Linked DNA regions of Homo sapiens: region 1 is linked to region 2. Evidence: fine-mapped expression QTL. A gene starts in region 2. The other region holds a variant in brackets. All regions are shown on one strand. Distances are between the middles of the regions.

Region 1 (4,379 bases), 78 kb before region 2:
AGGGCCACAGGGGTGAGAGGGTGTTGGGGAAATCTAGGAGGGCTTCCTGCAGGAGGAGTTGAAGGAGGCTTGGGAGGCTCTGTGTGCAAATGGTTCCCATCAGCTCCTCTGGCAAGGTAGAAGGAGTAAGGAGACACCAATCCACCAAGAGATGGTTAAGAGAAAGGCGCAGTGCAGACGCTCCCAGGCTCCTCTGCCCCCCACACATCTTACATCATATTTGCTCAAACACGCCCTTTGTTTTCTTGTTCCCATGCTGCTGGGTAGCTGCTGATAAAGTGTTTTTGTTTTCTGTGAAAGGAGAGCAAGGCGATGAGCTTAAAGTGTGCTTATGTGAGCTGAGGTCAGAGAATGAATCCTTGTTCTCGTCCTCAAAGACGAGTGAAAAGGGCCAACCTTGTAAGCTCTTCTTCCTCCTGGGAATTCAAAATGCAGACAGAAGCCAGTCAGCCTCCTCAGGCCGTTCTTCCACCATTATTGTCATTAATCATGTTAGGTGACTTCCGCCAACCTCTGGAGTATTGCCTTCCAGAAGGAGCATAATTTTCCAGAATGACAGGAATAATATGTTAATCGCCTTCGGCGTGCTCATGATGATCACAATGACAGTAATATCAACTCACCTGTAGGATCATTTACAGCCACCTGTCCTTCCTGGAATAGCAGCAAGAATCAGGAGAAGGGCCCAAAATGCTTTTGAGGAGTTAAGACAGAGTAGGGGCAGCTTCCCAAACCTTAGCTTCTTTTCTTCAAAGAAAACATGATAGGTTCCATTGTGGAACTTGTCCCCCAATGTAACCTAAGTTCTAACGAGCTTGGCTGTTTTGTTTTCTATTCTGCTACAAAAAGAAATGGCAATGTAGGAGTGAGATGAATTGCTAGAAGCCAGCACACTGAAAGTAGCAAGAAGTGACTGCTAGTCACAGAGGAGAGGATTAAAAACTAAAAAATGGCCGAGCATGGTGACTTGCGCCTATAATCCCAGTACTTTAGGAGGCCAAGGCTAGAGGATCGCTTGAGCCCAGGAGTTGGAGACCAGGCCTGGCAACATAGCAAGACCCTGTCTCTACAAAAAATACAAAAATTAGCCAGGTTTTGTGGTGCTGTCCTGTAGTCCCAGCTACTCAGGAAGCTGAGATGAGAGGATTGCTTGAGCCTAGGAGTTTGAGGTTGCAGTGAGTGGTGATTGTGCCCCTGCACTCCAGCCTGGGTAACAGAGCAAGGCCCTGTCTGCAAAATATAAATAAATACATACATACAAAATAAAAACTGAAAGACGACCATTACGAACAACAACGAGTGTGAGACAGCACTCACAATGAGGAGAGGCAGATGGCCCGAGCAGTTTCACTTGTTTCTGTGTGACAAGTCAGGTCAGGAAAGCCTGTTACTGGTTATAACTCTGTGTGAGCAGGAAGTTACTGGAGGTTTAGCACATTCTATTTCGGATGACATCTCTTCAAAGGGACCACCTCTCAAAGCCCCTAGTGAGGAAAAGATCAGGCTTAATTCATTTGGAGAATTAGGTTTTGACATTCTTTTAATCATGCGCCCCAAATTCTGTAAGCATAGGGCATAGAGAGTTGAATCAGTGCCTTGAGCCAGCCACAGGGATAAGGAAGGTGTTCTTGTTAAACTGATGCTGGCAGAGGGCCACGGTCCACCCTCTCATTGACCATGGTTGCTGGACAAGATCAGTGTCTGAGCAACAAGAAATTTGACACTGCACTGGGTGCTGCCCCTCCAGGAAAAGGCACCCACC[C/T]GCAGCAAGAAGGTGCTGCCAACAGCCTCATCGTCCCTATAAACAGAAGGTTCTAATCACGATAAGTACGCTTGACCCTTGGCTTCCTTTGGTGGCTGTCTTTTCATTTAGTCTTTGTGTAGCTATTTTAAAACCAGAACCAGTTTACACTAATTTTCTGTGGGGAGAGAAGTGCTGCCCATACCTTTTGATTAGGAGGATTTAAAAACAGGTTTGTTTGTGAGGAAGCAGTTCAGATGGTGGGACATTACAGCCAAGGACAGCCTCCTGCCTGGCTAATGTGGAGGTGGCCGCCCAGCTGGTGATCTCAGAGGCTGATTAGAGCTGCTAACTCTAACCTGGGGTGCTGTCCACCGTCCTCTGAGAACACAGGCTGAGATGGGGCAGGGACATCAACCAAGTTCACAGTCTTCCCCAGATGATCACAGTGCAGGCCTCTGAGCCTAGCAGTGTACGTGTCCCTCGTTTGCCGTCGCTGCCTGAACCCAGAGCTCAGGGGCCATTTGGTAACATTGCGGCCCAAAGTGGAGGCAGCTTCTACCTGGCTATCCCAGAGAGCTGTAACCAAGGATCCAAAGTCAGTAGGACGAGTTCTGCAGCATTCACACGCCTCTGTCTGCCCGGCACAGGAGGCCTCGCCCCGGAAGCACACGTTGCCATCTCTTCAGTTTTTCCACAACCTCCCTGGAGTGGGTCGCCATAGCAATGGAAGGGCTGCTCCAGGCCTGTGGCCCAGGCCTTGCTCACAAATTTCGCAAGAACGGCGCCACCTTGGTTCCCCAGTCATCCCCCTTCTCCCCGTCCCCCTCCCTTCATAACCTTCTGATATCTTTCGCTTTAAAACCTATCTCAGGTTCTTAAGCAGATGGCTGCCAGGTGGGCCTAGGTGTGTTCACAAACTTAGTTTTGTTCGGAACCTGCAGTGCCGACAAGGAGTGAGGCTGAATGTGAGAAGCAGGTAATTGGCCCGGCTTCCTGGGAACTGGGCAGGGATGGGGCTAGCCCCACCCTAACTGACAGACAGGGCTCCCTGGAGCCAGGGTCCTACCCTCAGGGACACCATGACCAGCTGCACAGGTTGCATGCTGCACAACTCCAGTGGATTCTGTTTACGTAGTTGTTGACTGTGAAATGTGTCTCTGGAGTTCTATAATCCTGTTGCAGTCCTAAAGTGTGTACTGAAATCCAGCTGCTCAGCCATCTAGGAGGTTGAGGTCTGGCCAGGTGAACTCTGAGGAAAAATGGTGCTGAAGGGCAGTCAGGCTGAAAGGATAATGAAAGCCCAGAAACCCATGAAACTTGGGTTGGCCAGAAGGGGAGACCCTTTAGCCAGGGTCACCGAGCCTGGGAGGCGAGGGGGATCTGGGTCAGGCCCTGGGCCTCAGGTCTCCCTGGACCCGTCTATGTCTGTCTTCTCCATGGAGTGAACAGACATGGGGTGCATGGTGCACCCACAAGCACATGGAAGAGGGGAGGCCCTCACTGGGGGGCCGGAATAGGACCCCTGAGAGCCCTATGAGTACCTGCAGCTCCACTCAGTTTCTGGGCATGGCTGGGGACTGGTGGGTACAGGGAGTGACAGATGGGGGAACCCCCGCCCCAAAAGTCTGCCCTCTCCAGGAGTGGCATTCAGAATCCTCCAGTGCGGACCTTAGCCCCGTCCTCATCCAGGTGGGGTGCTGAGACCCCGAGAGAGGCATGAACTTGCCCAGGGTCACACCACAAAGTAGAGCACAGAAGGCCTTGAATTCCCTTTCTCCTGAGCCCTTAGAGCCTGGAGGGAGGCTGGGTGGGGGCAGGGTCAGCCCCTACAACCACTGAGGTCTTGTCCCCTGACTCCCACTGGGTTCTCCTCTGTGGATGGCCCCAGCATTTGCAGGAGACAGAGGTGCCAGTGTCCCCCTGGGGGTGCTGAGATGTGTGCCAGGCCGGAGTCCCTAAGCCCAGGCCGGTCCCCCACGTTCTAATGAATGTTTTTCCTGGTCCCCTCACCACCCCAGCTCACTGACTGACAGGCAGCCACTCTCCAAAGAGTCCCTGAACCATGCTCTCGAGCTCTCAGTGCCAGAGAAGGTGAATAATGCCCAGTGGGATGCTCCAGGTAAGCCAGCTGGGGGTGGTAGGGTGGGGCAGGGCGGGAAACTGTGCTGTGCTGGGTGTGCTGGAGGGGTGGGTGGTGTGGGGGACCACCACACAGAACTGCGGGAAGGAGCAGCTGGGGATCTTGCTGGTTCCACGCTCCCAGGGACCCCACCAAGCCCCTTCCTTCATGGCTGCCATCAGGGCCAGGCGTGATGGAAAGGAATGAGGGATGGGGAGATTTCTTCTTCAAGAAAGCTGGGAAGAAGAGAGGCCAGAGATAGAGAGACAGGTAGGACATCATCTGGGCCCAGGCCTTGGGAACTTGGGGCTCCAGCAAAGGGTTGCTGAGGGACAGGAGAAAGCCCAGATAAGCAATGCCTTGGGATTTTTGGCCTGGTTAACTGGGGCAAGGGGCAGGCAGACGGGTGCAGGCTAGAAAGGTTTGTTTTGGAGGCTTGAAACATTACATGTTATCTTCTTGATCTCCACCATCAAATAATTGTGCCTTAAGGAAGGCAGAGTTATTTACTCTGAC
Region 2 (4,379 bases):
CAAGCTTCAGCAGCCTAAGCACTCTCAAAGTATGGTTCCAAGACCAGCTGCATCAGTGTCACCCAGGAACCCTTTCGATACCCACATTCTTAGCCACCCCAGACCTTCTAAATCAGAAAATCTAGGGGTGCAGCCTCCCAAGTAATTTTGATACATGCTCCCAGGTGGTTTCAGAACCACTATCCTAAAGTAACAAACCACGCATTTTAAAGCATAAAGTCTTGATCTCGCCCAGGCATGGTGGCTCACGCCTGTAATCCTAGTACTTTGGGAGGCCAAGGCAGAAGGATCACTTGAACCTGGGAGTTGGAGACCAGCCTGGACAACATAGTGAGACTCCATCTCTATTTTTTTTTATATATATAAATAAAAAAAAATCCTGATCTCTTCAAAGTCCACTGGCAGTTGTGGAATGGTATGTTGAGCCAGTGCCTGGGTCCAGTCCAGGTTCTACTAATTCCCAGCTGTGGGACCCTGGGCAAGTTACTGAACCTCTCTCAGCCCAACTCTTTGCCTATAATATGGAGATAATACCTACTGATTCAGTTGTCCTGAGTTTAGAAATAACAGTTGTATGGGCTGGACCCCAAAAAGATAGCGGTGACTCCATTTGGTGGATGGGGAAGGAGTTCAGAACATGCCACCACAACATATGCTGCTCTGGCATATTGAGTATTTGAGTTAAAGGCACTTGAAAAATAGCAGATGCAAGAAGGGCACTCTTGATCATCCTTCTTTTTCTAAAAAACAGGAGATGAGGCCGGGCATGATGGCTCACATCCTATAATCCCAGCACTTTGGGTGAGAAGCCAAAGTGGGTGGATTGCTCGAGCCTGGGAATTCAAAACCAGCCTGGGCAACACGGCAAAACCCCATCTCTACAAAAAAAATACAATAATTGGCCGGGCGTGGTGACTCAGGCCTCTAATCCTAGCACTTCGGGAGGCTGAGGCAGGTGGATCACCTGAGGTCAAGATTTCGAGACCAGCCCAGCCAACATGGTGAAACCTCTCTCTACTAAAAATACAAAAAAAAATTAGCTGGGTGTGGTGGCATGCCCCTGTAGTCCCACCTACTAGGGGAGGCTGAGGCAGAAGAATCGCTTGAACCCAGGAGGCGGAGGTTGTAGCGAGCCAAGATCGCGCTACTGCACTCCAGCCTGGGCGACAGAGGGAGACTCCATCTCAAAAAAAAAAAAAAGTATTTAGATTTTGCCAGTTCTCAGGGTCTTCATTTCCTTATGAGGGCTTCCACGTCATGTAAAACTTGTATTAAATCTGTTTTTCTCCCCTTAATCTGTCTTATGCCAAATTAATTCTCAAGCCCAGCCAAAGACCCTAGGAGGGCAGAGGTAAAGTCCTGCTTCCCTTACAATGGCATCTGCTTAAAAGCTCCAAAAAATGTCTTGGCCTTTGTCACACTTCTGTGGACACAGTCAAGTCCTTTAAATCCTCTCAAGTCTCACGTTTGTAACCAAGCCAAGTAAATCCTGTCCTGCTCCCTAAGGAACACAGAAGGTCTGAGATGCCCTGCCTAGGCCGCGCCCAAAGGCCAGATGGGCTTCCCGAGGCCTGGCCGGGAGGGCCTCAGATGTCAGCTTGACTGACCCCCTCCTTCTCCCCAGAGGGACAGGGCCCGGGTAAGGGCTTGACCAAGGTCGCGACGCGAGACGGTGGCGGAGCCCGGCCCCAGCTAGATCCACGCACTCACAGTCCTCGCTGCCGCCCCCGCCCCAGGTCAAGGGGCGCCACTCGCCCCACTGCCCGCCTCGAGAGGGTTTTTTCCCAGGCCCCGCACCCTCACGCCGTGCGACCTGGACTCCCACGGCGGGACCCGGGCTCACACCTCTTCCTGCTGCGGGGCGGAGTCGCCGCCGCTCCGGGTCTTTGTCCCCGCCTCCGAGACCCCCGCGCGCCCCCAGCACTTCCGGCCGCGGGAGCCAAGGGTTCGTGCCGGGCAGCGTCTCCCGGGGCCAGGTCGCCTCCTGCCGGGACCCGGGCGCGCTGCAGCCGCGGAGCCGGGTGCCCCGCCCTCTTCCCGCCGGCGGCGGAGTCGCTGCCGCTCCGGGTTCCCGTCCCCGCCTCCGAGACCCCCGCGCGCCTCCTCCAGGCGAGCTGCGGGGCGGGAAGGGTCCGGCCACCGTGGGCCGCTGCCAGCCGCGGGGCTGCCGAGGGCCGCGGGCACGGGGCGCTGGCTCCGGGTCTGGCGGCCGCTGATGGGAGTCGGAGCCCGGGCGGGCGAGCGGCGGCGCGGCGGCCACCATGGGGAACAAGCAGACCATCTTCACCGAAGAGCAGCTAGACAACTACCAGGTGAGCTCGGCGCGCCCGGCCCCCAACACAGGCCCCGCCGCCCCGCCGCCCCTCCCTTTTCTCGGTCGCTGGCCGAGGCCTCCCGAGAGCCAGCTCTCCCAGGTTCAAACCCTGCCTCTGCCTTCAGCTCGACGCGTGACCTTGGGCCGGTGACTTCCCCTCGCCGTGCCTCAGTTTCCCCACCGGTGGAATAAGAGCTCTTTCCAGTTGGAAGAACCTCTCAGGCGCGCCTCTCTCCAGCTACTCTCGCCCTAGGCAGGACCCGAACCCCTCTCCAGCCACCCATTCCAGCGCCCATCTGGCCCGGAGAGGGAGTCAGTAAACTAGGCTGGACGGAGGACCGCCCTCCCCGCTCCCTGCCCCCCAGCCCCAGGAAGGAGCCCAGGAGAGCGAGTCTCTGTAAAGCAGAAATGAGAGCTGGCGTCCTGTCTGGTCTAGGAGTGGGGTGCATCAGTCCCCACATGCAGTCTTCCCTTGGGACTGTCTTGTTTATCGGCTGGGGTTCGCTCCTTCTGACCCCAGCATGGAGATAACTGGAGCAAGAACGCAAGCCCGGTAGCAGCCTTCCAGGGCCACCTCTCCCAGCTCCCTTAGGCCCTCAGTAGCCACCTCCTTAGACCTTTCTAGGTTTTCCTGCCTCCAGAGCCAGCTTTCCAGATCTGGAATCCCAATACCGTCCCACCCAGGTAAAAACTTCGCTGTGGTTGCAGGATGAAGCCCAACCCCTTGGCTTACCCGGAGCCCTGGCCAATTGCTCAGCTTATCTCTGCAGCCTCAGTCTCCCCAGGTCCCTTCCCTGCCCTCTGCATGGCAGCCGCCTTAAAACCATTTGCAGTTGCTCCAGCTCACCAGGCTCATTCCTCCCTCCCTCTCTCCCTCTGCCCATGCCATTTCCTGGGCCTGGATGCCTTTCCCCCCTCCAGAGGATCTCTTTCACCCTTCAAGTCCCACATCTGATGCCTCTCCCCTGACTCCCCAGGCGGAGGGGGCAGGATTGTGTTGTGGCCTGTGTAACTGGGCAGGAGGAACACCAACAGGGTCTCCATAGGCACTTGTTGCCTTCATCAGTGCTTACTTTGGCTGTGAAGGAAAGCAGGTGTGAAGTGTGGGTCCTCTGATGTGGGTGAAGGTAAAACAAAGGCCCCTTCTCCTCCTAGAAGCCCTAGTTGTCAGTAATGGATTTCTCAGCTCCCCAGGTGAGGCCCTGGGAAGGAAGAGGGGAGACGCATTTATGGAGCACCTGCTGTGTACCAGGCACAGTAATTGATGCCCTCTACGCATCAACTCACTTGATCATCACAGTGAGGTGGATTATTAGCCCATTTTACAGACGTGTAAACAGAGGCTGAGGAGCCATTCAGGGCTCACACAGGATTTCGAATCTTGACTCCTAGGCTCACTTCTTTAGTTGGGAGTGGGCTGGGCTGGGCCATGTGTGCTTTTTGTTCCCAAGGCACTCAGTCTCAGACACTCAGAGACAGACTCTCACCTCCAGTGTGTGGCCCTTGTGATAGAGGCAGGTGGTGGAGTGTGTTCTAGGGAAGGGCACTAGTGGGCAGTGGGAGGCCAGCAGGGAAGGGGGACAAAGTCCAGAAACGATACAGCACTTGAGCAGGCCTTGGGAAGATAGGTCGGGTTTTGCCCAGTGGGGCCCAGAGGAGGCATTCCAGGTGGAGGGGACAGCGTGGATAAAGGCTTGGGAGTGGGCAGGGGCAAGCAGGCAAGCCATGCTCAGAAGTGAGGAGTAGCTTCATGGGGGTGGGGAGCCCAGGTTCCCACTCCAACCAGCCTGGCATTGGGTTACTCATCGGAGCCAGTCCCAGTGTTATGTTCTGATTCTTTGCCAGAGCCTAGCTAGACCCTGCCAGGCGGGGTGGGAGAAATGAGAGCTGTGAAACCTGAGAGCCCCACATCTCCTACCCTCTGGCTCTCCAGCCAGCCATTGCCAGCCCGGGCTGAGTGGGGGTGAGCCTGAGTTACAGCACCCTCTCCCCTAAGTGACACCTAGGGTTTCTTGGGACCTCCCAGCCTGGTAGTCTAACCTTTCCTGGGCAGGGTGCACCCTCT

What was found. PIP is the estimated chance that this variant, and not a neighbour inherited with it, causes the effect. A credible set is the group of variants that fine-mapping cannot tell apart.
Region 1: its variant is the best candidate, but not a certain one, in a credible set for the expression of CIB2 in esophagus mucosa (GTEx, PIP 0.66).

Annotation. Positions count from the first base shown.
Region 1 is chr15:78,207,486-78,211,864 of GRCh38, reverse strand. ACSBG1 (acyl-CoA synthetase bubblegum family member 1) reads left to right here. Exons shown (of 14, transcript NM_015162.5): 2 at 3,763-3,863. Among named protein-coding and RNA genes, the nearest start is that of ACSBG1, 25 kb to the left of the region's middle. RefSeq lists an enhancer at 3,413-3,924. The variant C/T (reference allele first, on the strand shown) is at 1,763.
Region 2 is chr15:78,129,098-78,133,476 of GRCh38, reverse strand. CIB2 (calcium and integrin binding family member 2) reads left to right here and starts at 2,032. Exons shown (of 6, transcript NM_006383.4): 1 at 2,032-2,312. The coding sequence starts at 2,262. RefSeq lists a silencer at 1,808-2,327.